Linked DNA regions of Homo sapiens: regions 2, 3, 4, 5 and 6 are each reported to be linked to region 1. Evidence: microRNA targets listed by miRTarBase, many of them from high-throughput screens and not tested one by one. Region 1 holds a microRNA gene; each other region holds the end of a gene's coding sequence. Distances are between the middles of the regions.
The links. The annotated mature microRNA hsa-miR-6836-5p reads CGCAGGGCCCUGGCGCAGGCAU and lies in region 1 at 2,633-2,654, shown strand. An mRNA with a match to its seed (bases 2 to 7 or 8) in the 3' UTR can be bound and repressed. Matches are read on the target gene's strand: a 7mer-m8 pairs with bases 2 to 8, a 7mer-A1 pairs with bases 2 to 7 and ends in A, and an 8mer does both.

Region 2: the mRNA of FAM131B is a reported target of hsa-miR-6836-5p. Seed matches in the 3' UTR shown: 7mer-m8 at 658-664 and 7mer-m8 at 2,026-2,032.
Region 3: miRTarBase lists PHF21A as a target of hsa-miR-6836-5p. Seed matches in the 3' UTR shown: 7mer-A1 at 1,155-1,161 and 7mer-m8 at 2,722-2,728.
Region 4: the mRNA of VCL is a reported target of hsa-miR-6836-5p. Seed matches in the 3' UTR shown: 7mer-m8 at 1,131-1,137 and 7mer-A1 at 1,552-1,558.
Region 5: miRTarBase lists MAFG as a target of hsa-miR-6836-5p. Seed matches in the 3' UTR shown: 7mer-A1 at 3,244-3,250, 7mer-m8 at 2,709-2,715 and 7mer-m8 at 569-575.
Region 6: the mRNA of LDLRAD4 is a reported target of hsa-miR-6836-5p. Seed matches in the 3' UTR shown: 7mer-m8 at 1,512-1,518.

What each region holds. Positions count from the first base shown.
Region 1 is chr7:2,256,120-2,260,204 of GRCh38, reverse strand. It overlaps MIR6836 (microRNA 6836), which reads left to right and starts at 2,628; the gene lies at 2,628-2,690. It overlaps SNX8 (sorting nexin 8), which reads left to right. Exons shown (of 11, transcript NM_013321.4): 8 at 2,402-2,470; 9 at 2,691-2,840; 10 at 3,182-3,331. RefSeq lists enhancers at 744-813, 1,324-1,413, 734-1,513, 1,514-2,293.
Region 2 is chr7:143,353,108-143,357,192 of GRCh38, reverse strand. FAM131B (family with sequence similarity 131 member B) reads left to right here. Exons shown (of 7, transcript NM_001031690.3): 7 at 171-3,793. The coding sequence ends at 643. Among named protein-coding and RNA genes, the nearest start is that of FAM131B-AS1, 6.6 kb to the left of the region's middle.
Region 3 is chr11:45,930,382-45,934,466 of GRCh38, reverse strand. PHF21A (PHD finger protein 21A) reads left to right here. Exons shown (of 19, transcript NM_001352027.3): 19 at 242-4,085. The coding sequence ends at 499. Among named protein-coding and RNA genes, the nearest start is that of LARGE2, 9.8 kb to the right of the region's middle. RefSeq lists an enhancer at 3,880-3,969.
Region 4 is chr10:74,117,873-74,121,957 of GRCh38, forward strand. VCL (vinculin) reads left to right here. Exons shown (of 22, transcript NM_014000.3): 22 at 151-2,297. The coding sequence ends at 297. It overlaps AP3M1 (adaptor related protein complex 3 subunit mu 1), which reads right to left. Exons shown (of 9, transcript NM_012095.6): 9 at 2,383-4,085. Among named protein-coding and RNA genes, the nearest start is that of AP3M1, 31 kb to the right of the region's middle.
Region 5 is chr17:81,919,234-81,923,318 of GRCh38, forward strand. It overlaps MAFG (MAF bZIP transcription factor G), which reads right to left. Exons shown (of 3, transcript NM_002359.4): 2 at 3,917-3,981; 3 at 1-3,824. The coding sequence starts at 3,952. The coding sequence ends at 3,372. MAFG-AS1 (MAFG antisense RNA 1) reads left to right here and starts at 3,666. Exons shown (of 3, transcript NR_186500.1): 1 at 3,666-3,999. RefSeq lists an enhancer at 3,676-4,085.
Region 6 is chr18:13,645,440-13,649,524 of GRCh38, reverse strand. LDLRAD4 (low density lipoprotein receptor class A domain containing 4) reads right to left here. Exons shown (of 7, transcript NM_001378100.1): 7 at 1-4,085. The coding sequence ends at 3,868. Among named protein-coding and RNA genes, the nearest start is that of MIR4526, 36 kb to the right of the region's middle. RefSeq lists an enhancer at 1-467.

The sequences.
Region 1 (4,085 bases):
AGAATCGCTTGAACCTGGGAGGCGGAGGTTGCAGTGAGCTGAGATCATGCCACTGCACTCCAGCCTGGGTAACAGAGCAAGACTCTGTCTCAAAAAAAAAGCCAAATCTGTAAACTTTCTGAAAACATTATGAGATTTACACACAGACCTACCTACCTTCCTTCCTTCCTCTCTCTCTCTTTCTTTCTCTCTCTCTTTCTTTTTTCCTTTTTTGTTTTTTTTAGTTCATCAGCTATCATAGTGTTAGCGTATTTTATGTGTGGCTCAAGACAATTCTTCTTCTTCCAATGTGGCCCTGGGAAGCCAAAACATTGGACACCCCTGGTTTAGGGCCTTGTGCAGCACTGAACCACAGATGGGACTTGGTGACAAATGACACGAACAGAGGGACCCCTGAACTCCCCCTCTTCTGCTGGGCCAGGGAATAAGCCTACATTCTCCTGAGCCCCTGCCTGGTCAGGTGGGAGCTGGGCACCTGCGGTCAGCTGGCGTTTTCTCTCTAGAGTTTTAGAAACTCTTAACACACCTCTTCTCCTGGCACATTTTACTGGCTGGAATCCCAGCTGCTTTGGGTGTGGGGTTGGTGGCCGGGGAGCCTCCGGGTTCAGTCGGCCTGAGGTCTGGAGGGTGGAAGGGGTATCTTAGGGTCCCCTGGGGTGCAGCAGGGCCTGGGCGGCACCCCTGGCTCCCATTCCAGGGCTGTGTCCCGTAAAACTCGTTCCATCCACTTCTGCCTGCCCCGTCTCCTGCTGAGCTTGACGTGCAGTGCGTGGGGTGAGCTTTTCACCCCCTACCACGGGTGGAGCCCGAGGAATCGTGGAGGGAGCTTGGTCTCCCCGAGGTGCTCAGTGAGCTGTGGGGACTGAGGGCGTGAGCTGTGGGGACCGGAGCCCTTCAGGGCCCGGGTGTGACTGAAGGCGTCAGTGTCGGGGGTTTCCCCAGGATACCTGCCATCGGCCTGGCTTGGTTGCGGTTGTGGCTGGGGGGTCTGTGGTGAGCTGTGCAGGTCAGGGGTGGATGGGCTGCCGCTTCCGCTGCCTTCCCCAGACCCCTGCTGTCTCCAGAGCTTGGATGCTCCCCTCAGTGGCAGCTGGAGCCCAGGGCTTTGGACCGACTCTTCATACCGCAGATGCCTCTGAGCACCGTGTGTTCGGGCCGTGTGCACTGTGCCTGGCCTGCGCCCCCACCGAGGGCTGCTACTGGTGTAAGCCGGGGAGGCCGAGGCAGCGTCTGGGTGGGGTTCGCCCGTGGGGGCTGCTTCGTGTCCCCAGGTGCTGTGGTGACTCTGGGAGCAGGGCATCCCTCTGCCGTGATGGGGCCCCTGTTCCACTCCAGGGCTGCCCGCCGTTTGCTGTGCACTCACTGCCCTGTTGGGCTCTCTCTGTGGCTGTGCTGCCCGCACAGAGCCTTGTGTGAGGGCCGAAGAGGAGCCTGTGTCCACCGCTGCCCCCACCGCCGAGTGTGGTGCTTCTGCGTGCAGCCTGGGGCGGCCGCCTCTCTTCCTGGATCAGCAGCACGTCCTTCCTGCAGCTGCTGTCTCTCCTACCTACCCTGCGCCCCCTTCCCTGTGCCCCCTTCCTAGGCCTGCGTTTCTCTCTCCTGTTACTGATGCGGAGACAACACCCTTGTTCTCCTCCGTGCCCCTCCTGGGCGTGCCCGTTTTGCACACGGCTCACAGCGTTATATGGGAACTCGGGTTTTCTGCAGTGCTTGATGGAGCCTTAGGGGTCGGGGGGTCTGGGGCATCTGGCTCTCCCAGCATATGTGTTGGGAGAGTCGCCGGCTTTGCGAAGGCCTGAGAAAGGCAAGGCAGGCCGGGCTGATGAGCAGGAGGGCGGGCAGCTGTCCCGCGGGAACGCAGGCCTTGTTCCCATCAAGACTGCTGGGCCAGGCCCAGCGCGGTGGCTCACGCCTGTAATCCAGCACTTTGGGAGGCCGAGGCGGGCGGATCACGAGGTCTGGAGATCAAGACCATCCTCGCTAACACGGTGAAACCCCGTCTCTACTAAAAAAAGAAATACAAAAAATTAGCCGGGCATGGTGGAGGGCGCCTGTAGTCCCAGCTACTCGGGAGGCTGAGGCAGGAGAATGGCGTGAACCCGGGAGGCGGAGCTTGCAGTGAGCCGAGATCGTGCCACTGCATTCCAGCCTGGGCGACAGAGCGAAGACTCCGACTCAAAAAAAAAAAAAAAAAAAGACTGCTGGGCTCGAAGGCGTGTCCGCCTGGTAATGGGTGGGCTGGTGGGGAAGGGGGCCCCCTGCAGACCTGGCTGGTGGTCCTGGGGAGCCCGTCTGACTCTGGGAGGAAGGAACCGGCCCAGGCCAGGCTTGGGTCTGAGTTCCCGGGCAGGGACCGGGTCCTATGTGCGTCCGCGTGGGTGAGCTCCCCCTCGCCTTCCAGGGTAAGCAGGAAGAGAACGACGTGGTGGAGAAGCTGAACCTCTTCTTGGATCTGCTGCAGTCCTATAAGGTGAGTCTTGGCTGCTCCTTGGCTGGGGGCAGAACTTTCAGGAATGATCTTAGGATCCTTCAAGGGTCTAACTCCTGGGGGACGGAAGAGGAGCTGAGAAGCCAGGGCTGCAGGGGAAGACGGGGCCTTCCGTCTGGCGGGGGTGCTTCCCTCGGCCGGCTCCGCAGGGCCCTGGCGCAGGCATCCAGACAGCGGGCGAATGCCTCCCCCGGCCCCGCAGGACCTGTGCGAGCGGCATGAGAAGGGCGTGTTGCACAAGCACCAGCGGGCCCTGCACAAGTACAGCCTGATGAAGAGGCAGATGATGAGCGCCACCGCGCAGAACCGCGAGCCGGAGTCCGTGGAGCAGCTGGAGTCCCGCATTGTGGAGGTGGGTGGCGGGGCGGCCGAGCAGGCCCGTGGGAGCCTTTCCCCTCCCGGCCATGGTGGGACCCGGAGCCGTCCTGGTGGGCTCCCCTGGGTTGGCTCCTTGTGTCTGGAACAGAGCTGGGGGTGCAGTGGAGGCAGGGAGCTGGCCCGCGTGCCCAGAGCGATGCGGCTCCCTGCACGGTGCTCCCTCCCCGGCCCTCTCTTACCTCGCCACCTTCCAAATGCCTGGTGAAGGCTGAAGGAGAAGGGGCCGCCCTGGCTCAGGGAGCACGCTGGTGTTCGGGCCTTGGTGCTCCCGTCGCCGGCTGGGCCGGGTGCGAAAGGCGGCTGTTTGCTCCGCAGCAGGAGAACGCGATTCAGACGATGGAGCTGCGGAACTACTTCTCCCTGTACTGCCTGCACCAGGAGACGCAGCTCATCCACGTCTACCTGCCCCTCACCTCCCACATCCTCCGCGCCTTCGTCAACTCTCAGATCCAAGGGCACAAGGAGGTGAGTCCGCCCTGCTCCGGCCGCCGTCTCGGCCACGGCCTTTCTTTGTCCCTCCGCCCTTCCTTCAAGCCCGGCAGCGCGGTGGCCGGCCGCCCTAGAGAGGTTCTTTAGTGGAGTTGGGCTCCGCATGGGCCTTGGAACACGGTGCTCGCCCGGATCTTCTAGTCTCCTGTGTAGCCAAAATCAGAATCGTGAGGGTGTCCCTGTGATTCCTGGGGGGCGGAGGGAGGAGCAGACAGGGAGAGTTTGCCTCCTGGAGGGATTTGAGAAGTCGGAGGTAAAGCCCGCAGAGCTCCCGCACCCTGCGGCTGAGAGAAGGTTTCTAGCGCTTCGGAGCGCCGCAGGTGGCTGTTCTTCCAGAGAGCCCTGGCCGGCTTCCTCCAGAGCAGATGGCGGTTCCTTCAGCCTGGGAGAAGAAACGCTCCCAAGGTCCTGGGACAGGCCTCCGTTGATTTCTGGTGGCCAGCTCACTGCAGCACCGCTGGGATTACAGGCGAGCACCTTGTGCCCGGCTGAAATTAAGTTTATTAAGTAGCTGCAAGTAGCTTTCAAGCCATGGTCTGTGGTGTGTGTGGAATGGCACCGAGTGTCTGGGGTGGTCACGAGATTCCACACTGTCCCCGGGAGGTGCTTGGTGCCGTGGGTGCCGTCCAGCACTTTGGGAATGGCAGGCTGGAGGCGGCCGTGGTGGGGCTGGAGAGGCGGTAGACAGCCGCCGTGTTAGGAGCATCACTGTGAGATGGCCAGGGTCTCA
Region 2 (4,085 bases), 140 Mb from region 1:
GACTTCCTTGTCCATCTCAGCTTTCCCATTGTCCTCCCTACTCACTGTGCACTCTGTGTCTTACTGCCAGTTCTCTGTGCTGTCTCTTAGCTGTCTCTTGTGCTGTCTGTGCTGTCATTCCTGCCCTTGACATTCTGTGGCCCCACTGACCTCCATGATTCTTTTTCCAGATGCCCTGGCTCAAGCACCCATGGATGGATGGCCTCACTCTTACGTGTCCCAGGGTATGTACTGTCTGGGGTCGTCAGATGCCTGGGAAGCCAGCGATCAGTCCCTCATTGCCTCTCCGGCCACAGGATCCTATCTTGGGCCTGCATTTGATGACTCACAACCCAGCTTGCATGAAATGGGACCTTCCCAACCAGCTTCAGGATACTCTGCTCTGGAGCCTCCACCTTTGCTGGGGGGAGACACTGACTGGGCTCCGGGGGTAGGCGCAGTGGACCTGGCAAGGGGCCCTGCTGAGGAGGAGAAGAGGCCATTGGCACCTGAGGAGGAAGAGGATGCGGGATGCCGGGACCTGGAGTCACTTTCCCCACGAGAAGACCCTGAGATGTCTACCGCTCTCAGCCGGAAGGTGTCTGACGTCACATCCTCAGGTGTGCAGTCCTTTGATGAGGAGGAAGGCGAGGCCAACAACTAGTTTCCTCCCCCAATGCCCTGCCTTCCACTCCCACCTGAGGGCCATGGCTGTGACCCATACCCTCCCTCCCCCCAGCAGTACAGCTGAAACTGGGCAGACAACATTGGGGAACCCAGGAGCTTCCAGTCCTCTCCTGGAAATGGAGGACCAGGATGGGATTTTATCCAGGCTTACACTCTAGAAACCCACAGGCCTGGGAACTGAGACCTGGGCAACTAGATGGCCGTGAGCTTGGTGTGGCTGTGGAGAAGGACCTGGGCTGTGGGCTTCTGGGTCTGTGCCGACAAAGCCTCCAGTGTGTGCACCCTGAGGACGGGGGCAGCGCAGCTGTGCTCAAGACTGGATCTCAGTTCTTCACGCCCCGATTTCGTCTTCCAGGAGCTGTAACTCTGCTGTCTGAATGCCTCCTTTCTCCATTTCACTCTTGCTTTTCCCAACTCTGTTTTCTCTGGCTGTGGCCCCAGCTCATCCCTACTGAGAGAACAGACCTCAGGGGCTGTTGGACATGGCTGGACAGGCGCAGGGGAGGCTGCCTGAAGGGCACGTCCATGGGGAGGGTGGAGAGGCTGCCTCAGCAGGTCATTTGGCTTCTGAGATCAGGAGTCGAGGAGGAGGTGGATGTGGCAGCTGAGATCTACAGGGGGCACGGATGTGGTTCTTTCTATCAAGGCCTGCCCGGAGACAAGAGAGTCACTGAGGAGACTAAGAACAAACACAGCCCCTTGCTCTGGGATCTTTAATATCCCATGGCTAAAAGGAAGATCCTAAGGATCTGGGAAAAGACCCAGCCAGGGCTGGCTGCTCCAGCTCTTGCTTCCCTTTCAGCTTTCTTCCATCCCTGCTCCGGGAGCCTGAGGAGGGTGTGGGGACACCCATCTTGGATACACCAACGCAGGATGCAGGTGTCGCCAACAGCAGGGGGAGCATGAGGGCTGTCTCCCCTTATTCACCCCTGTCCTCTGAAGCTGTTTACACTTTTCTCTTTGCCTTTTCTACATTTTTATAACTTCTTGGGCACTCAGGGTTGAGTGGAGTGGAGGGAGGAGTCCGGTGCTGTCACTCCCTCAGCCAGGCAGGGTTGCAGCTGAGGGCCAGGGTGGGCACTCGGCACTTTCTGCCCCTTCTTCAGCTCCTCCCAGGACTCCCAAACAGCCTCACAGCTGTCCTCCCTGCCTCCCCAGGCCTCCTACCAGAGGAAGAGAGGAAAATCAGCGGATTCTTCCTTCCAGGATGGTGTATGGTGAGGCACAAGCTTGCCCTCCCACACTTGGCATCCATGCTGGTGGGGACTGAGCAGCATATGCGCCCCAGCACTACCGTGAGAGCACAGGCAGAGGATGGGCGGAGCAAAGCAGCGGTGCTGTGGGGTTGGAGAGCACTTGGCCCTGCCACTGCCCAGGTAGCCCCTCCCCAGCCCTTGGCACAGGCAGAGTTCGGGTAGGAGAGAGAGGCCTAAGAGGCTCACTGCCCTATCTCCTTCTTTCCTCACGCCCTTCCAAGGCTCCGGCTCCCAGGCCTGTGTCCTACCCACACTCTGTCAGGAGTCCTACCACTTGCATCCTCTGCTGGAAGGGAGCACTGTTGTCCTCTCCTGGCCCTGGGCACAAACTTTGCCCTCACCCCCAGGCCCCAGAACTTATTATTTTGGAGTGAGAAGGTTGAGAGTTGGGGTGTTTCTGTCCATCTATGGTCCTGTCCCGCCATCAAGTTCATACTCTCTTACTCACACTTCTGGGATGCAAGCAGGGCAGGGGGTTCTGTGTCTTCCATGGAAGGGGGACAATGGTTATCCTGAGGTTGGTTTTTGGAGGAAACATGGGCGTAGGCAAGGTGAACCAAGGCAGGTGCAGTCACCTAACCGAATGCTGCCTGTACAGGGGAAGAGTCCTCTTGTGCTTGCTAACGTGTGCTGACTCCATGTCCCAGGACCTCATTTCCAGGAGCTCTGAGAGGTGGTCTAGCATGCCCGCCCTGGCAGCTATTCCCCACCCGTCTCCTGCTGCAGGCTCTGGGGTTTTGCATGTTCATGTGACCTTCCTTCCATGGGGTCCCTGGTTCCTCACCTTCTCCAATGTGTGCTATTCCCACATCACCTCTTCCTGTCGTCTCATCCTCTCAGTGCCCATATCATACCCCCAGACCACGGTGGACAGCTCACCTAGTGAGTGCGTTCATTCATTACAGTTCGTTTTTGCTCAGGCCCGGGGGAGTTAGGAAAGGTAGACCACAGCAGCTTTCGTTCCTCCTTCCCTTTCCCAAGGAAGCCAAATGGTCCCTGACAAAAGATGACTAAAGATCTGAAGGACTCTAGCAGGGTTCATACATGAACCTGCTTTCCCCAGGGTGCTGGCATATTGCTGCAGATGGAAGTCAGGTGGGGGTCTGTCTTCTGCAAGGAGCTCCTACTCGCTCTGAAGAGGGAGACTGAGGAGCTGGCCTGGGACCATCTTAGGACTCTTCTGGTGCTGGGGGCAGGGTGCATGGGGGTTGCTTATCGTCTATTTCAGGGGGTGGGGAGGGGCATGTGCAGGAAGAGGCTGTTTCGGGGTGGGAAAGGGTTGCTTTTCCTTTGGGGTTAAGGCTGTGCAGCACGTTTTACAGCAGTCCTGGAACAGGGCTGTTTTTATATTCTTGTGAATGAAACTGCTCTTGCTAAATGATTTTCTTTTTTTGGAGGGGGGGTGCACTTTCATTTTCAATTGACTTTATTAAATGAAAATCCAAATCTTCCACTCCTCCCCCTCCATTGTCCCCTCCCCCACCACACACCTTCCTTCTTGTCCTTGTGTTGAAGAGGGTATCTTGGGGAATGAGTTTATTATCTTCTCCACGACCTCACCTATACATCCCACACACCATCCTCCAGGTCTGGGAAATATCCATTTTTCTGGCCAGTCTTAGCATGTTTTCTTAATGTCACATTCCCACGCCAGGCCCAAGAGAGATTCTATGACATATATTATAGAGAGAATTCTATATCAATATATATAAATATTAGAGATTATGTACACAAGGGCATGGGCTCAAATGCCCACTGCCAGTCCCCCACCCAGGCTTCAGCATCTCTCTTGGCCTGGGGAAGTGGGAGGGATGTGATGCTGGAGAAGGCTACAGGCTGTGTTCAATGACACTAAACAGAATGTGGTGGCATCCTCTGACTGTGAGTGTCTTATTTGGGGGATGGAGGAGACTGGGAACAGGGGAGGCAAAGGAGGAGAATGTCGGAGCGGGGGCACAATGGTAGAATTAAGAACGGCATACGGGATGGCAGGCTGGGGAGAAAAACCTTGGGTACGGAGCAAGGGTTTGGGGATGCTCACAGCACCTGGCCTCTCTTTGTAGAGAAAGCACGCTAATGGAGTGCATAGCCAGGCTTCCTGCTGCTGATTTGGGGAGGGTGAAGATGTGACTCTCCCAAGTGCGGGGCAGCACTCAAGAGCCC
Region 3 (4,085 bases), not on the chromosome of region 1:
TGCTCTTTCTCCCTCTGTTGCCTCTGGGACCTGGGACCCCCCAGCCTACCCACTCCACCCGCCCTGTTCCTTAGGTGGTAGCCGCCCACTCCACTGAGGAACACAGCAAGGCCCAGGGGCTGCACAGCAGCCAGCAGAGCTTCTTCTCCCTGGGCAGAGAGAAGGCGCTCTGCTCTTAGGGGCTGCCAGGCCTGTTAGAAACCAGGCGGCTCAGTGCCACTGCCCTTGTCATTTGCTGCAGAAATGCATGGAAATGAAGAACACCATCCTGGCCCGGCAGAAGGAGATGCACAGCTCCCTGGAGAAGGTAAAACAGCTGATTCGCCTCATCCACGGCATCGACCTCTCCAAACCTGTAGACTCTGAGGCCACTGTGGGGGCCATCTCCAATGGCCCGGACTGCACCCCCCCTGCCAATGCCGCCACCTCCACGCCGGCCCCTTCCCCCTCCTCCCAGAGCTGCACAGCGAACTGTAACCAGGGGGAAGAGACTAAATAACAGAGCCCCTCTAGGAGAAGCCACGGGATCCCGGCGGCAAGGAGAACAGAACACTGAAGACTCTAGAAAAGCAAAGCCGGATTTCTGGAAAGTGCAGAATTCTTTTGGTTCTTTGGTTCCAGAGAGAGAGAAGATGCTTGTGCCAGGTGGCACCAGAGTTTGCCAATTGATCCTTCTTATTCTGTGTGTACATGCAAAGATTGGACCATGTTACATGAAATAGTGCCAGCTGGAGGTTCTTTGCCAGCACCATGCCAAGTGAAATAATATATTTACTCTCTCTATTATACACCAGTGTGTGCCTGCAGCAGCCTCCACAGCCACGATGGGTTTGTTTCTGTTTTCTTGGGTGGGGAGCAGGGACGGGCGGAGGGAGGAGAGCAGGTTTCAGATCCTTACTTGCCGAGCCGTTTGTTTAGGTAGAGAAGACAAGTCCAAAGAGTGTGTGGGCTTTCCTGTTTCTAAACTTTCGCTACTATAAAACCAAAAAAAGGAATTGAGATTTCACCAACCCCAGTGCCCAGAAGAGGGAAGGGGAGTGGCTGGAGGGAGCAGGGGGTGGGACAGTGTATCAAATAAGCAGTATTTAATCACCTCTGGCGGGGGCCTCGTGCAAGGGGAGACTGACACCAAGAACAGCCAGTAGGTTCTTCTCCCCTGCACTCTGCTCCCTGCGCGGTAACCCCACCACTCCTGAAGCCTGCCCAGTCTCCTTCCTTCCCTGCTTGGTGAGTCGCGCATCTCCGTGGTTATCCCGCTGTCTCCTCTCCAAGAACAAGCAGAGCCCGGGCCACTGGCCCTTGCCCAAGGCAGGGAAGAAGGATGTGTGTGTCCAGGAAGGAAAAAAAGGTGGATCAGTGATTTTACTTGAAAACAAGCTCCATCCCTTTTCTATATTTATAAGAAGAGAAGATCTTGAGTGAAGCAGCACGCGACCCAGGTGTGTGTGAATTGAATGGAGACGTTTCTTTTCTCTTTCTTTAATTTTTGTTTTTGTTCTTTTTTTCTTTAAGGAAAGTTTTATTTTACTGTTCATTTTACTTTCTTGGTAACAAAAACTAAAATAAGGAATAGAAAAGCTGTTTTTCAGGCTGACAGTCCAATTAAGGGTAGCCAAGACCTTGCATGGTAGAGTAGGAATCATAGTGTCAGTGAGGTCCCGTGAGTCTTTGTGAGTCCTTGTGTCATCGTTCGGGCACTGTTTTTTTATGCAAGGGCAAAAATCTTTGTATCTGGGGAAAAAAAACTTTTTTTTAAATTAAAAAGGAAAATAAAAGATATTGAGGTCTTCCTAGTGTTACTTAAATTAAGATCAAGGTAAGAAACATTGTAAAAAAAAATTACAAAAGTGCTATTTGTTTCCTAAAAACAGTGATTTCTATTAAAAAGGTGTCAGAACTGGAGAAAATGCCGTGTAGTTATAATTTTTTAGCACAGACCCTGCTGATCACGATGACATTTTGCCGTGTGTGTGTCTCTAGACTGGTGGGCCAGTCTCCTTGAAGGACAGAGGCGGAGCTCCCCACCCTTCTCTCTCCTCAGAAAAGACCGTGCTCTCTTCTTGGTGCAGGGATCTTGTCTCCTGTTGTGAAGCCCAAATGGAAGCGTGGATGGTATCAGGGCCCTACCCGTGGTCTTCTCAGATTCTGCTAGAGCAAAAGGCTGGTGCCTAAATAAGATCCCTTCCTTTGGTGCTGCTTTTGGTCTTTCAGCCACCAGCATTATGAGTGCCTGGGGGACACCTCCGAGGGAACTGGCCAGCGGAGCTCTGTGGTGCGCACGCACCCTGGCCGTGACAGGAGGGTGCGGGAGTACAGGCTGGCTGCATCAGCCCTTGGTGCTTAGAACAGAGGAGGAGTGACATGTTTTGAGGGTACGTCTCTGAGACAGAGCCCCAGCGTGGCCTTCGCTCTGTCTTGCCTTTGGGGAGAGGTCTGAAGCTCCCACTCCTTTCTCTGCCTGTTGGCTCCAGGCACCAGAAATTTACTCCACTCCACCCACCCACAAGCCTCCTGGGTGACCCTGGGCTAGAATTGCTGCGCTTGCCTCGGCTTGGCCGGTTGTGGCCTCTCCTTGAGAAAACCAGGGTTGTGAAAGACTCAGACCATTCTCTCATCTTGCCTTGTCAGAAGTAAATTGTGTCAGATTTGTGCTCTCGCTGGAGACCTTTGCCCCTTGCGTGCCCCTGGCCGATGGGAGGGCGGTGGAGGCTCTGTACCCTGGCCCTGCTGGAGCATCTCCCCCAAGCCCACTCCAGGCCCTGGGAATGGCCAGAGTCTAGGAGAGGTAGAAACGATCCTATCAGCTTCTCTCCCACCCAATTAGGCCCAGAGAGACAAAGACAGATCTGAAAGCAAATGCAACAGAGAAGAGACACTTCTTAGAGTAAAATGTGTCTCATCTCTATCAGCCATCGCCTTTCATCTTCCCAGGGGCCTCAGAAGAAGGAATTAAGTTAGGCTGAACAGGCCTCAGAGTTAGGCCCTGGCTGCTTGATTGGCTGAGGGGGAAAGAGTTCCCTTTTCTCATTCAGAAACCAAGGTGCTGTGTCTAGTCAGGGAGCCTTGGAGATGCCTGGACTAGTTGGAGGAATCGTTGGCAGAGGATCAGAGACCAGCAGCAGGCTGTCTGCCCTGTCTAGAGCTCTTCCCCTCAACTTGTCTGGGCCCATCTGGGGGTTGCCACACAACACCTAACTTACCTTTTCCTGAAAGAAGTTGGGAAACCATCATCACTAGAGGCCTTTGCTCAGAGAGGAGCTGCCTTAGGAGTCTTGGGTCGGAGGACGGGGCTAGGAATTGACCAGGGCTTTGCCTGCCGCCCTCAGCAGTGTCGGGTACATTCTGACCTCGCCTGCAGCTGGGCTGTGGATTCTTCCTGACATTCAGATGTGAGCTGTTTTGGGAGTCAGCTAGTATGGAGTACGAGATGCAACCCAGCCCCCAAACCTACATTCTGCACTCAAATTCCAAAACACTGCTTTACTGTAAAGAAGAGGCCCCTGGCACCCAATCTCCCTGTCCTTCACTGTCCCCTCAGACCTGGGCGGGGAGGGGGGGGGGCCTGTGACCACCTGAGACATACGCTCGTGACACTGCCCCACCCCAGCCACCTCCACTTGCTTCCTCCTCCTTCCCTCCGCTGCTCTTTCCCCACGGCCCAGAATTTAGCTGCTCTGACAGCCACTTTTGAGACCAGCTGGCTTTGTAGTCACTTCAGAGAGCTGGAGCGGCTGCCCACTGGGCCCTGACTGGGAGTCCCCTGCCAGCTCCTGATCAGGCGCTGCGCCCTGGTGGCAGTGATGACTGGGAGTCCCCTGCCAGCTCCTGTCCAGGCGCTGCATCCTGGTAACAGTGAGGCCATGTTGCTGTCATCTCCACCTCTGCATTCTTGCTGCCTGTGGGTCCTTTTTCTTTCATGGAGCCTGCTGGGTCTTGTCTCACCTGTGCTGAGCTCCTCTGGGGTTTTGATTTCTTCCTTCCTTATCAGGCCCTTTGGGGTAAGCCTGCTGGTTGTACCTGACATAGGGAGGCAGTTAGGGGCAGTCCCTGGTGGGGCCGCCCTGGCAGCCTCCAGCTGGCACCAT
Region 4 (4,085 bases), not on the chromosome of region 1:
GATCTGGGAAAACCCCTAGTGATGCAAGCAAATATGGGGGATGCCAGGTACCAGTGGGGTTAGCTGCATCCCACTCCTGGCTGAAACCTATTTTAGAGACAGGCCTGCATCAGGGACCCTGGGTAACGGAAAGTACCTTTTTCCTTGCAGGCCACAGAGATGCTGGTTCACAATGCCCAGAACCTCATGCAGTCTGTGAAGGAGACTGTGCGGGAAGCTGAAGCTGCTTCAATCAAAATTCGAACAGATGCTGGATTTACACTGCGCTGGGTTAGAAAGACTCCCTGGTACCAGTAGGCACCTGGCTGAGCCTGGCTGGCACAGAAACCTCTACTAAAAAGAAGGAAAATGATCTGAGTCCCAGGAGCTGCCCAGAGTTGCTGGGAGCTGAAAAATCACATCCTGGCCTGGCACATCAGAAAGGAATGGGGGCCTCTTCAAATTAGAAGACATTTATACTCTTTTTTCATGGACACTTTGAAATGTGTTTCTGTATAAAGCCTGTATTCTCAAACACAGTTACACTTGTGCACCCTCTATCCCAATAGGCAGACTGGGTTTCTAGCCCATGGACTTCACATAAGCTCAGAATCCAAGTGAACACTAGCCAGACACTCTGCTCTGCCCTTGTTCCCTAGGGGACACTTCCCTCTGTTTCTCTTTCCTTGGCTCCCATTCACTCTTCCAGAATCCCAAGACCCAGGGCCCAGGCAAATCAGTTACTAAGAAGAAAATTGCTGTGCCTCCCAAAATTGTTTTGAGCTTTCCATGTTGCTGCCAACCATACCTTCCTTCCCTGGGCTGTGCTACCTGGGTCCTTTTCAGAAGTGAGCTTTGCTGCTACAGGGGAAGGTGGCCTCTGTGGAGCCCCAGCATATGGGGGCCTGGATTCATTTCCTGCCCTTCCTCAGTTTAATCCTTCTAGTTTCCCACAATATAAAACTGTACTTCACTGTCAGGAAGAAATCACAGAATCATATGATTCTGCTTTTACCATGCCCCTGAGCAATGTCTGTGCTAGGGAAACTTCCCGTCCCATATCCTGCCTCAGCCCGCCAAGGTAGCCATCCCATGAACACACTGTGTCCTGGTGCTCTCTGCCACTGGAAGGGCAGAGTAGCCAGGGTGTGGCCCTGCCATCTTCCCAGCAGGGCCACTCCCGGCACTCCATGCTTAGTCACTGCCTGCAGAGGTCTGTGCTGAGGCCTTATCATTCATTCTTAGCTCTTAATTGTTCATTTTGAGCTGAAATGCTGCATTTTAATTTTAACCAAAACATGTCTCCTATCCTGGTTTTTGTAGCCTTCCTCCACATCCTTTCTAAACAAGATTTTAAAGACATGTAGGTGTTTGTTCATCTGTAACTCTAAAAGATCCTTTTTAAATTCAGTCCTAAGAAAGAGGAGTGCTTGTCCCCTAAGAGTGTTTAATGGCAAGGCAGCCCTGTCTGAAGGACACTTCCTGCCTAAGGGAGAGTGGTATTTGCAGACTAGAATTCTAGTGCTGCTGAAGATGAATCAATGGGAAATACTACTCCTGTAATTCCTACCTCCCTGCAACCAACTACAACCAAGCTCTCTGCATCTACTCCCAAGTATGGGGTTCAAGAGAGTAATGGGTTTCATATTTCTTATCACCACAGTAAGTTCCTACTAGGCAAAATGAGAGGGCAGTGTTTCCTTTTTGGTACTTATTACTGCTAAGTATTTCCCAGCACATGAAACCTTATTTTTTCCCAAAGCCAGAACCAGATGAGTAAAGGAGTAAGAACCTTGCCTGAACATCCTTCCTTCCCACCCATCGCTGTGTGTTAGTTCCCAACATCGAATGTGTACAACTTAAGTTGGTCCTTTACACTCAGGCTTTCACTATTTCCTTTATAATGAGGATGATTATTTTCAAGGCCCTCAGCATATTTGTATAGTTGCTTGCCTGATATAAATGCAATATTAATGCCTTTAAAGTATGAATCTATGCCAAAGATCACTTGTTGTTTTACTAAAGAAAGATTACTTAGAGGAAATAAGAAAAATCATGTTTGCTCTCCCGGTTCTTCCAGTGGTTTGAGACACTGGTTTACACTTTATGCCGGATGTGCTTTTCTCCAATATCAGTGCTCGAGACACAGTGAAGCAAATTAAAAAAAAAAAAAAAAAAAATCCCTGAATGATGATTAGAGACATCACCGCTAAAAAACTACATTTATAAGCTAGGATTTGTTATATGCAAATATTTTCTGCCTCTTCTTTTGTTCTGTTTAAAACAATAAAATGCATTTGTATAAAAAATGCTTTAAATGATGGATATGTTACTTTAGCAAGAACTTTTAGGTCAGGTTTCTCCTTTGTTTTGATGAATAGTCAATGAAACTAATCCTCAAGATCTGGAAACTAAAGATTTTTATTTAATCCAAATGTTGCACTGGAAGAAGAAATCAACAGTGGTATATTTACTTAACAAGGATGTGTGTAATACAAGACAACCCTGGGGATTACACACTTGAAGGAATGGAAGTGGCAAAGGTTAACAGGCAGAAAGCAGCTGGATGAAACAGTTTATTTTCATCTTAGAAGATTCTAGCTATCTGTGGAGACCACCACTGTTCCCCGAAAAGCTAAAGTTGTTAAGTTTGTAGGAGTACCACAGGTCCTTCCCCCTGCTGCAAGACAGAGACTTGCTCTGTTGCCCAGGCTGCAGTGCAGTGGTGCAATCTCAGCTCACTGCAACCTCTGCCTCCCGGGTTCAAGCAATTCTCCTGCCTCAGCCTCCCATGTAGCTGGGATTACAGGTGTGCGCCACCATGCCTGGCTAATTTTTGTATTTTTAGTAGAGATGGAGTTTCACCATGTTGGCCAGGCTGGTCTCGAACTCCTGACCTCAAGTGATCCGCCCACCTTGACCTCCCAAAGTGCTGGGATTACAGGTGTGATCCACCACGCCCGGCCACACAGGTCCATTTTTCATATTCCAAAGCCCAGTATAGAATAAATAGGGTTTTCAGGGATCCACCAGGGCTATAAAACAGAGTTAGCTTTTGGGGACATAGTCCTCTTCTTCCTTAAAGAAACACTGACTAAAATAGTAGGAGCAGGTTTTTAGAGTAGAGTTGGGACATCACTTTTTCCCTGATTTTCTAGATCTGAAAGGGGTAACATGTCATTAAAGGGTGATGATATTGATATTTAGTGTTGCCAACTGCTATTATCACTGCTTTATCTTGGAAAGTTGCCGACTATAAAGACAGATTCCAGCCTGCTTGAGTTAAGGGAAAGGCCAAGGCTGCTACTGAATTAGCAGTTTCTAAAACTGTCTTGTTTTTGCCATTTACCATATGTTCACTGGTGCTGCCTTCCTGCTGTAGTATAATCATTTTCTCAAATCAGTTGCCTCTCAGGACAAGATCAGCATTTTCCTAGGGTCCTTCTGTAGCACCACTTAAGGAATGAACCTATCACAGGAACTCCCTTTGAATAAAATGATGGTGACTCCCACACGCAGGAAAGAATCATTTACTTCATTTGCTCTTGATATACTCCCTTATGAATTTAGAACAAGTGATCCAGGATTAGCTGTAACTCTGTGCTTGAAAAATATTTTACTACTACTAAGTATTCAGAAATCTTTGTTATCAGTAGGTGGTGGTAGTGATAGGGAAGGGAGCTTTGATCACTAATCTCTCAGACTGTGGCCAGAATGGTGATGCTTAAGCCAAGTATGAATGGCTATTAACATACTGAGGTTAGGGAAGGAGTACTGAGAAGTGCTTTGCAGCAACACTCGCAGCTTGTGTGATGATGCAGAAGAAAATCTGATCATGTTCACCCTGCTTTGACAATGAGCCTTGCCCATTGGAGAATGTTCAATCAATAGTAGACCTAAAAAAAATCAACTTGTTGCTTTCATCTTTTTATTGATAGCACAGCCAGAGCTACCAAAATGATTTACTGGATTCTAGCAAATTAATAAATACAGTAATTTGATTGTAAAAGGAAACATTCTACTTGGACATTTTAGTAGAAATTGCTAGAGGGAAGGAGCTCCTGGCGTACATTCTACTTGGATAGAAGAGAAGATAGCACAGGAGG
Region 5 (4,085 bases), not on the chromosome of region 1:
TCCGACTTTCCAGATGTGGATGGGCGCTTTGGCCAAGTGGCCACTCCAGAGGGAGGCAGCAGGGACAACATGGGACCTGACCATCGTCCCAAAGCAGGCTGCAGCCGCTCAGGGCCGTGGGCCGGGCCCTGATCACCAGTCAGAAGTGTACACACATATCTGAAACATGCACCAAGAGCTGAGCCAGCAACACCAGTGCCACCCCGAGCAGCAGCCAGGGGCCTCACTCTCCTGGTGAGAGCTGACCTGTCCCTGCTGGGTATTCCTCTGAAATCTGAGCGTCCATGTTAGGATAAAAGAGGAGTTGGGGCAAAGTTAAGGTGGAAGGGAAGACATATATCATGGTTTACTTGGCGGACAAGTTTGAGAGACCTGGCCTTGGCCAAAGCCCTCGATTCGCTGTGTCAGAAAAACTGAGGTGAGAAGAGACCACCACCCTCTCCACCACCCTCTCAGTAGGAAAGCGGGATCAACAGAGATCAGAAGGACAGCACACTCACACCTGCACATGAACACACCATCTATGTCAGGAAATCCAGGGGAAGGGGAAGAGGGGTGGAGTGGCTCCGCAGGGCTGACCTGACAGGGGACAGGAACACTCCCCTAGACCCAGGGAAGTCGCCCCAAATCCAAAGCTCTTGAAAGGAGGTATGGCCTCGAAACTCCAGAAGCCTCTTCTGCCAACGCACCGAGGACCTGCACCTCCCATTCAGCACGCGTCGACCCTTACACCCTCCTCTTCCACACTCCCTTCGCCTCCAGGTCTGCAGCCTGGCAGAGGTGCTCAAAATGGATGGCCACCCACAGCCAGGACAAAAGTGGGGGCTGCACAAGGACAAGGAGGGCCTGTTTCTCCCCACTCCGAGGCAGATCATGACGTTTTCTTCATGGATACTTATGATATGATTCCAACTAACGCCTGGATTCTACTTAGACAAGATCAGACTGAGGGGAGGGGGATGAAGTCACTAAATGACAAGAGTCAACAGCCAATATTTCCATTTTCAGGCTGACGCAGGTAGACACAGGACTTGTCTCTGAACACCTCGAGCAAAGAAAAGCTCATTAACATGACAAGTGTTGATGGTGCCTCCCTGTTCCCATCCTGTGGGCACACCAGGCCAAACTATTGGATAAAAATCCCACCATCCATAGGGTTAAGCCCTGTTGGGCCACAGTTTTTCATCTTACCCACATCTGTGTGCTTTACAGAAGTCTGGGCCCCACAGAAAAGAAACCAGCAACCCGGTGAAAGGCCAGGGCTCACATGGCCAGACACAGGGCTGTAGCCTCTTGGAGGTGGGTAGGGGCACCCCCTCCCCATCATATGCCTACAAGGAGCCTCCTGAGCCCAGCCAGGAAGGGCAGCAGCCTCTGGCGAGGAACTGAGAGCAGGAGGCAGGCTGCGCCCCCACAGGGAGGCACCTCCAGCAGAAGCCAAGCAGCTGATCCCTGGAAGACACAGATCCCAAAGGGAGGCAGAAGGCAGGCCCGAAGCCAAGAGCTGCCAGCGTGGACCAGCGGAGAAGAGGGACAAGACCCGGCCCTGGAGACTGTAGCCCTTGTCTGCACTGGTGGAGACCCCCAAGGCTCTCAGAGTGAGGCAGGGACAAGGAAGAAAGGGCGGTGCCCGGTGGGCCCCCACCCACTCTGCCTGGAAGCACCACCCGCAGCATGGAAACACCTCAGGGATCAAGCGGGCGGCGAGACCTGCAGCCCACGGCGCGGGCAGCCTATAGGAACAAAGCTGAGGCCAGAGGAAGACGGCCAGGGAACGCTTGGCCATAGCCCTGTGGCCACCCACAGTGACTCCCTCATCCCTGTAATGCCACCACCCAAGGCCAGAGGTGGTGGGTGTGGAAGCAGCGTGGGGCGCCCCAAGGGACCCCAGTTTCACCTACCCCGCCACTAGATCAGCCCAAGCCCTAGACACAGATGTAGCCAAGGCTCAGTGGAGGGGGGCATGACAGAACCCCATGTCTCACCTCCTACGGACCAGGAGCTGGTGGTGGGCACAGATTCCTTGAGCTCTGACGCAGCAGGCGCCACTTGGCACCCCAGCCCAGGTCCAGCAAGCCAGCAGAAGCAAAAGCACAACTAAACCCAAAAAACGAACACGGGAAAACAGACACAAGAAGTGACACCCACAGGTCAAAGGTCACCAGAAGCACCAGCACTTTACCGCTGCACAAAACCTCACCAGGCACGGACGACACCACGGCACCGGCAAGAGACGGAAGCAGGAAGGGCAGAGGAGTAAGTCACTTTCGGTACAATTGCAAAAGATATCAAAGAGGACGGCCTTCTGGTCGGCTCACGGCTTGGCTTTTTTTTTTTTGTCTTTTTTTTAAACTAAGTTTTATAAATAATGTCTGATAACTCTGTGTATATAAAAACTAAACTCCAACAGCCACAAAGAGGTGTCCGTAAGTTTACAAGAAAGGGATTTTTTTTCTTTTTTTTTCTTTTTTTTTTAACTAGCAAAGTTTCTATTATACTTTCTTCCCTTTTCCATTCATATGGTCAAATGGTCTTCTTGCTTGTTTTTTTTCTAAAAGACAGTTTTATAAATACTCTGCAGCTCTTTTTTCTTTAACTTTTAAACATATAATTAATTTAATAACTTTGTAAAAGGAACTTCTCTCTTTTAAATAAAGGGCTATATAACCACACAAATAGGTCATGTAAACAGTGACACGGGACCCATCGCAGGGCACACTGGACCCACCCTCACGTTAAGCGCACAACCAGAGATTTGGTCTTGTTCAGTGCAACGGGTCAGGCCTGAGTGCACAGCCCCTGGGCCCAGCTGCACGCCCCCAGCACCACTGCGCCCAGGCTGGTGGTCCACCCATCAGGGCCTTCAAGCCCGCCCTACTCTCAGAGCAGAGCCCATCTCTTCATGCTGGGCTAAGCTGAGCTGCTCCCCTGGGGCTAAAGAGAGTGAATCCTTCCCAGCCCGCGAGCCTGTGGCCACTCGGGAGTGGAGGGAACACTGGGACCCTCACTGCTCGGGGACACGCGAGGCCCAGCGTGCCTGCTCCTTCTCTCTCCCGCAACTCTCTCTAGTCCGTTCCCACAGCACCAACTCTGGACTCCAAGCCTGCATGGCCCTGGTACAAAAGGGGTTGGGGCGACCCCACGTCACCGCCGAACTGACCAATCCCAACATACAAAACACACGACGACAATGACGAGATCAAAGGGGCTCAGCCCGGCGCCCCTGGGGTACAGGTTGTGCTTTGCAGGGAAGAGAGAAGGGTGGGGAAGAGAGGGAGGAAAGAGAAGAGAAGGAAACAGAGGGACAGGGCAGCCAAATTCGCCATGTGCCTAGTGGCCCCGCAAAGACCCGCCTGGGCAGACGCGCGTCCCTACGATCGGGCATCCGTCTTGGACTTTACTATTGTGATGACGCTGGTGGCGGCCACCTTGCCTGGGACGAGGGGCCCCAGGCCGGCGGCAAGGGGGCCCCGGGCTGGCGCCACGGGGCTGCGGGCCACCGTCCGGGCGAAGGTCTGCAGCGCCTCGTACTTGGAGCGCAGCGCGTCGAGCTCCAGCTTCATGCTGGCGTTCTCTGAGGCCAGCTTCTCCACCTCCTGCTGCAGCTCCGCCTTCTGCTTCTCCAGCTCCTCCTTCTGCGTCACCCGCTTCACGCGGCAGCTGGCAGCGTAGCCGCGGTTCTTGAGCGTGCGCCGGCGCTGCTTCAGCTGGACGATCTCCTCCTTGGACAGGCCCCGCAGGTGCTGGTTCAGCTCCCGCACCGACATGGTCACCAGCTCCTCATCCGTCAGGCTGGTGCCATTCTCACCCGGCTCCCGCTTCACCTGGGGCACAGTGCAGGTGGTCACAGGCCAAGCGGGCACGCCCACTGTGCCCCCCGACCCCAGCCCACAGGCTCCTGTCCCTGCCCACTCACCTTCAAGGCCTTGTTTCCTTTATTGGGGGTCGTCATAACCCGGGGGCACAGCGAGCAGGCGCTCTCTGCAAGACACGGAGCAGGTCAGTACCCTGGAGACCACCCTCGCCGCACCCCCCCCCCCCCGCCCCCGGCCCAGTTCACAAGAGCCCTTGCCGCACAGCCCGCC
Region 6 (4,085 bases), not on the chromosome of region 1:
GGGCTTCGGACTGGGTGCCGGGTGTCTCTCTACTAGCAATCAGTATCTGGCCTGAGGACATATTTGAAGTGCTCTGCACCAGAGCCTTCCTAAAAAGAAGAGCCGCTGGATGGAAGATAGAGGATGGCCCCTGTCAGAGAAGGGAACTGTTGGTTCAGAGAGGAAGGCAGGGATTTGGATGGATTCTTCTAGGTCAGAGAAGATTTCTAAAAGTGCTTCCTTTTGAGCCTTTCTCATTCTTATGAAGATGAAATAAAGGTGAAAGAGATCAAACGGAGATACGCAGAAGTTCAAGAAGTCCTCGCCTGGGTACAAAATTCCTCTGCTGGTGTCAGGAGGCCTCCCCCATTTACTGTTGGCCCCTATTTCCTGCCTCATAAGTTTGAGCCAAAATTAGTGAATGGAAATGCAGTCCTCACGATAAATCTTTTAAAAATTCGCTTCTGCTCTCTTGGGATTTCTTGTGGCTTGGGTGTGTGTCCATGTGTTTATGTGGTGGGGAGGGTGAGGACATGCTTGTCAAGCTTCTGTATTAGTAAATTTTGGACACTAAAAATAGAAGAACTATTGAAATACATAATTTGCTTCATGAAATCTCTTTTCCATTAAGGATTGCGTCAGTATTTAAAGAGAATGCTAGAGTTTCTGAAAAAGCAAACGTATGCTGGAAGATTGTGTTCTTATAGATGGGATTCAAGATGCCTTGGGTCTCCTACACCGGGAACAAGGGACAAAAGTCAGCGGTATGCCCAGGAGTGTTCATTCCCACCAAATGTTCTTCCTAACAATGCAATCCACACTTTGCTGGAATAATCTAAGATTATAAACCTATCATTGATTGCCTAAATCACTCGTTACTAAACTGGACCCATGGGTTCTATAAGCTAAAAAAAGGGTTCTTGAAAGAACAATAGGCCCCACTGTGTAAGTTGTATCTTCCCAGTCGCTACTCTTTCAACGCCACACTAGCCATGAGGCGACACGGTATGAACAGGTCAGCCACAACCTTCAAAAGAGCTACTGATCTAAATCACCTTTTCCTTCTGCTGAAGGGAAATTGACCATCAATTCATGTTATGACCTTGGCTTTTAAACTAATTCATTACAGAGCCCCAGCCTCGAAGACCTTTCAAAGTCATGGTTTGATATGTATGAGTCTTTAAATAACTATTTAACAAAGGCAGTTCTCTAGGGTGGTTGAATGGGAGGAGCCTCTTTCTTGAAAGATGATTAAAGGTATCTGAATTATGTAATTATCTCGCCAATACTGTGGACATGTGCAACACATTCATATACTCACAGTTACTAAGGAATTCACAAGTCTCTGCTCTGAGCCCCTTCTTGAGGCAGGTAGAGAAGTAAGGACTGTGAAGCCATTTGAGAGCTAGAGCTGTGGGGTGCATCTCCTGCTTCACCAAAACTGCAGGTGAGAACTGAAATGATGGAATCACTCACCTCGCCTCCGCATCTGTGGGCACACCTGACCAAGAATCCACTGCAAGTCCCTGCCAGCAGGGCCCGATGGGAACACGGGCTCCTCATCTTTGCCTGACAGAGGAAGAGAGGCTAATCTGGAGAGCCAGTGAACCTTCAGGGTGTCTCCAGGGTTGGGGAGGGTCCTTCTGGCCCCAAGCCAATCTCTGCCCTGAGAGCTGGTGTCTCTCCAGCAGAGGCCTTCCAACTGTCACTGGAACAAGACTGAATCCAGTCTCAGAACCTCCACTGTGACTCTCAACTGTATATACTTCCACACAGGTTGTAAGCATGAGCTGACAACTGGTGCCTGTGTTTTTCCTCTCTCCTTTTAAGAGTTGGACTAGTTCTGTGGATGTTACTGTGTGCAAAGGATGAATGTAATGGAAATTCCAATCCTCAAAACAAACAAACAAAAACCAGTGACCTATCTACAGAGGTAAGAAGCAGAAGGGAACAGACTAGGATCAGACAACTCTTGGGGTTTGGAACAGTCTCTCCAGTTACAGCACAGAGCCACCGCACCGACGGATCACCTTCGAGACCCACAGACAGACACAAACACACACACGCGGATTTGGCTTTAAGGCTGCATAGGTGGGAGTCATGGAATCATCATTCCAGCTCATCTTGTTATGTGAAGAGGCCACAGAGGCCCACCCTCCACATGGCAGAGTGTACTGCAGATAAGCCCTTCTCCACGCGCAGTGTCTGCTAAACGTGTTGGCTGCTGCTCTTATAAAAGCCAGTGCTTACATCTGCAGAAGAAAGTTATTTTTTTCATTGTATATAAGAATGAATATTTGTAAATATCAGGAATATTAAAACTAACAATATTTAAAATTAGTTTTCTAGTTGCATTTTAACTGCATGTTGTGCTTTTTACCCGGTGCTCTTCAGTCACTTGCCCCCTCCACTGTTCTCTGACTGTCCAGTTCTTGCCTTCAGTACAAAAGCTGGCCTGGGGAAGGGTTTGGTAGAATCCTGCGGGAATTTGGGTAGGTTTTGAGCACTGCATTCCTTTAAGAATGCTATGCTAATACTAGTGACATACAATAACCCACAATGGCTTATTACCACGATCAGCAACATGGCATTCTTCCGTCATTATTTCTAGGGGCTTCCAAAGCATAAGAAACCACCACCCACACCACTCCCACACGAAGTTCTGTGTAGGCTGGATGTGGGGTGGCTGCTGGGAGCCTCCTGTGAACTGAGCAGCCCTGCAGAACTGAACTAAGCTGTCGAGGAAAGGGGGAGAGGCAATGGGAATATACTGAGGAGTCACATATTTCAACAGTATGCAGAATAACCACCTTGCATTTTAAACAATTTATTGCATAAAATAAGGTATGTATTTGAATATATTTCATGCTATAGTGAAAAAAATCTAAATTACTGAAGAAATTGCACTGCTGGAGGATGAGGGCAGCACTGCATGATACTGGATCCATAAATGCATGTGTTCATTTTCTCATAAACTATGCAGCCTAAGAGTAGCAGAGTAACTCAAAATAACAAGTCAGAAATGCTGGAACTTAATCTTCCCTATCTTATCTTCCATCCAAAAGTCTCCAAAAGCTTCAGCGATGCACTGCTATTTGATGCAAACTCCTGCAACAATAATGACTTTTTTGATTTACGTAAGTTGGTAAAATGTTAGGCTACGTCCCCAAATATCTTTTCTTGGATGCTTCTGGGGACCACTCCAGGATATTCCTTGGGCCTGATTACAATCCACAGGTGAAAAGACAACATACAGAACTTCACGTAAAACAGTTCCCTTGTAAATATTTTCAACATTAAGATAGTGCAACTTTTAAAACACATCATCACAACACAAAGGAGCTCCTTGCACTCATCTAACTTCTCCACTTTATACCTTGGCACACAACACAGGAATTTTGATTCATATTTTTAAAACAAAATAAAAGTTCCACACCTTAGGAGAAAAAGCGAACTGGCTGGTTCTTCCCCACAATAATATATAATAATGCTTCCTTCTTTATTCAGTTAATTATAAAACATGCCATTCTGGCCTCATTTATCTGCAAAGTCTCCTTTCACAATTAAATACATCAAATACCTCTGTGGGTTTTATTTCATGGTATCTTCAAAGCATCCCGTTCTCTGTTTTCCCCTGCCCACACCCCCATCCCAACCCCTGTCCCCAAATAAACACTGTTTGCGGTCAGACCAGATGGAAGTTTGTATCATTTCAGTCTAGTTTGCATGCAATTCCCCTAAAAGGAATCAGAAACAAAGACCGTGTTTGCTCATTTGGTTTTACTTATTTGTACCATGTGAAACTGAACAACACTGTGCGCAGGAGGGGCCCAGCGGCCGCTTCCCTTCTTGGTTTCTTTCTCCAGCTGAAGTGCACGTTGGAAGGAATCAGACCAGGTTCCCAGGCTTCCTATCTTTGCCTTTGATGGGTACTATTGTGCTCTCTGCATTGTTCTGCTGAAACTGCAGTCTGCTGCCCCTGTGTGCGTTGCTGCGCTGGTGATGGAGGAAAGAGGCGCCTGGGTGGTGGCCCATCACCTCGCTGTATGTGGGGGGTGGCCCCTCCATCCTCCCGTTACTGCTGCAGGTGCTTGCACTGATGCCCG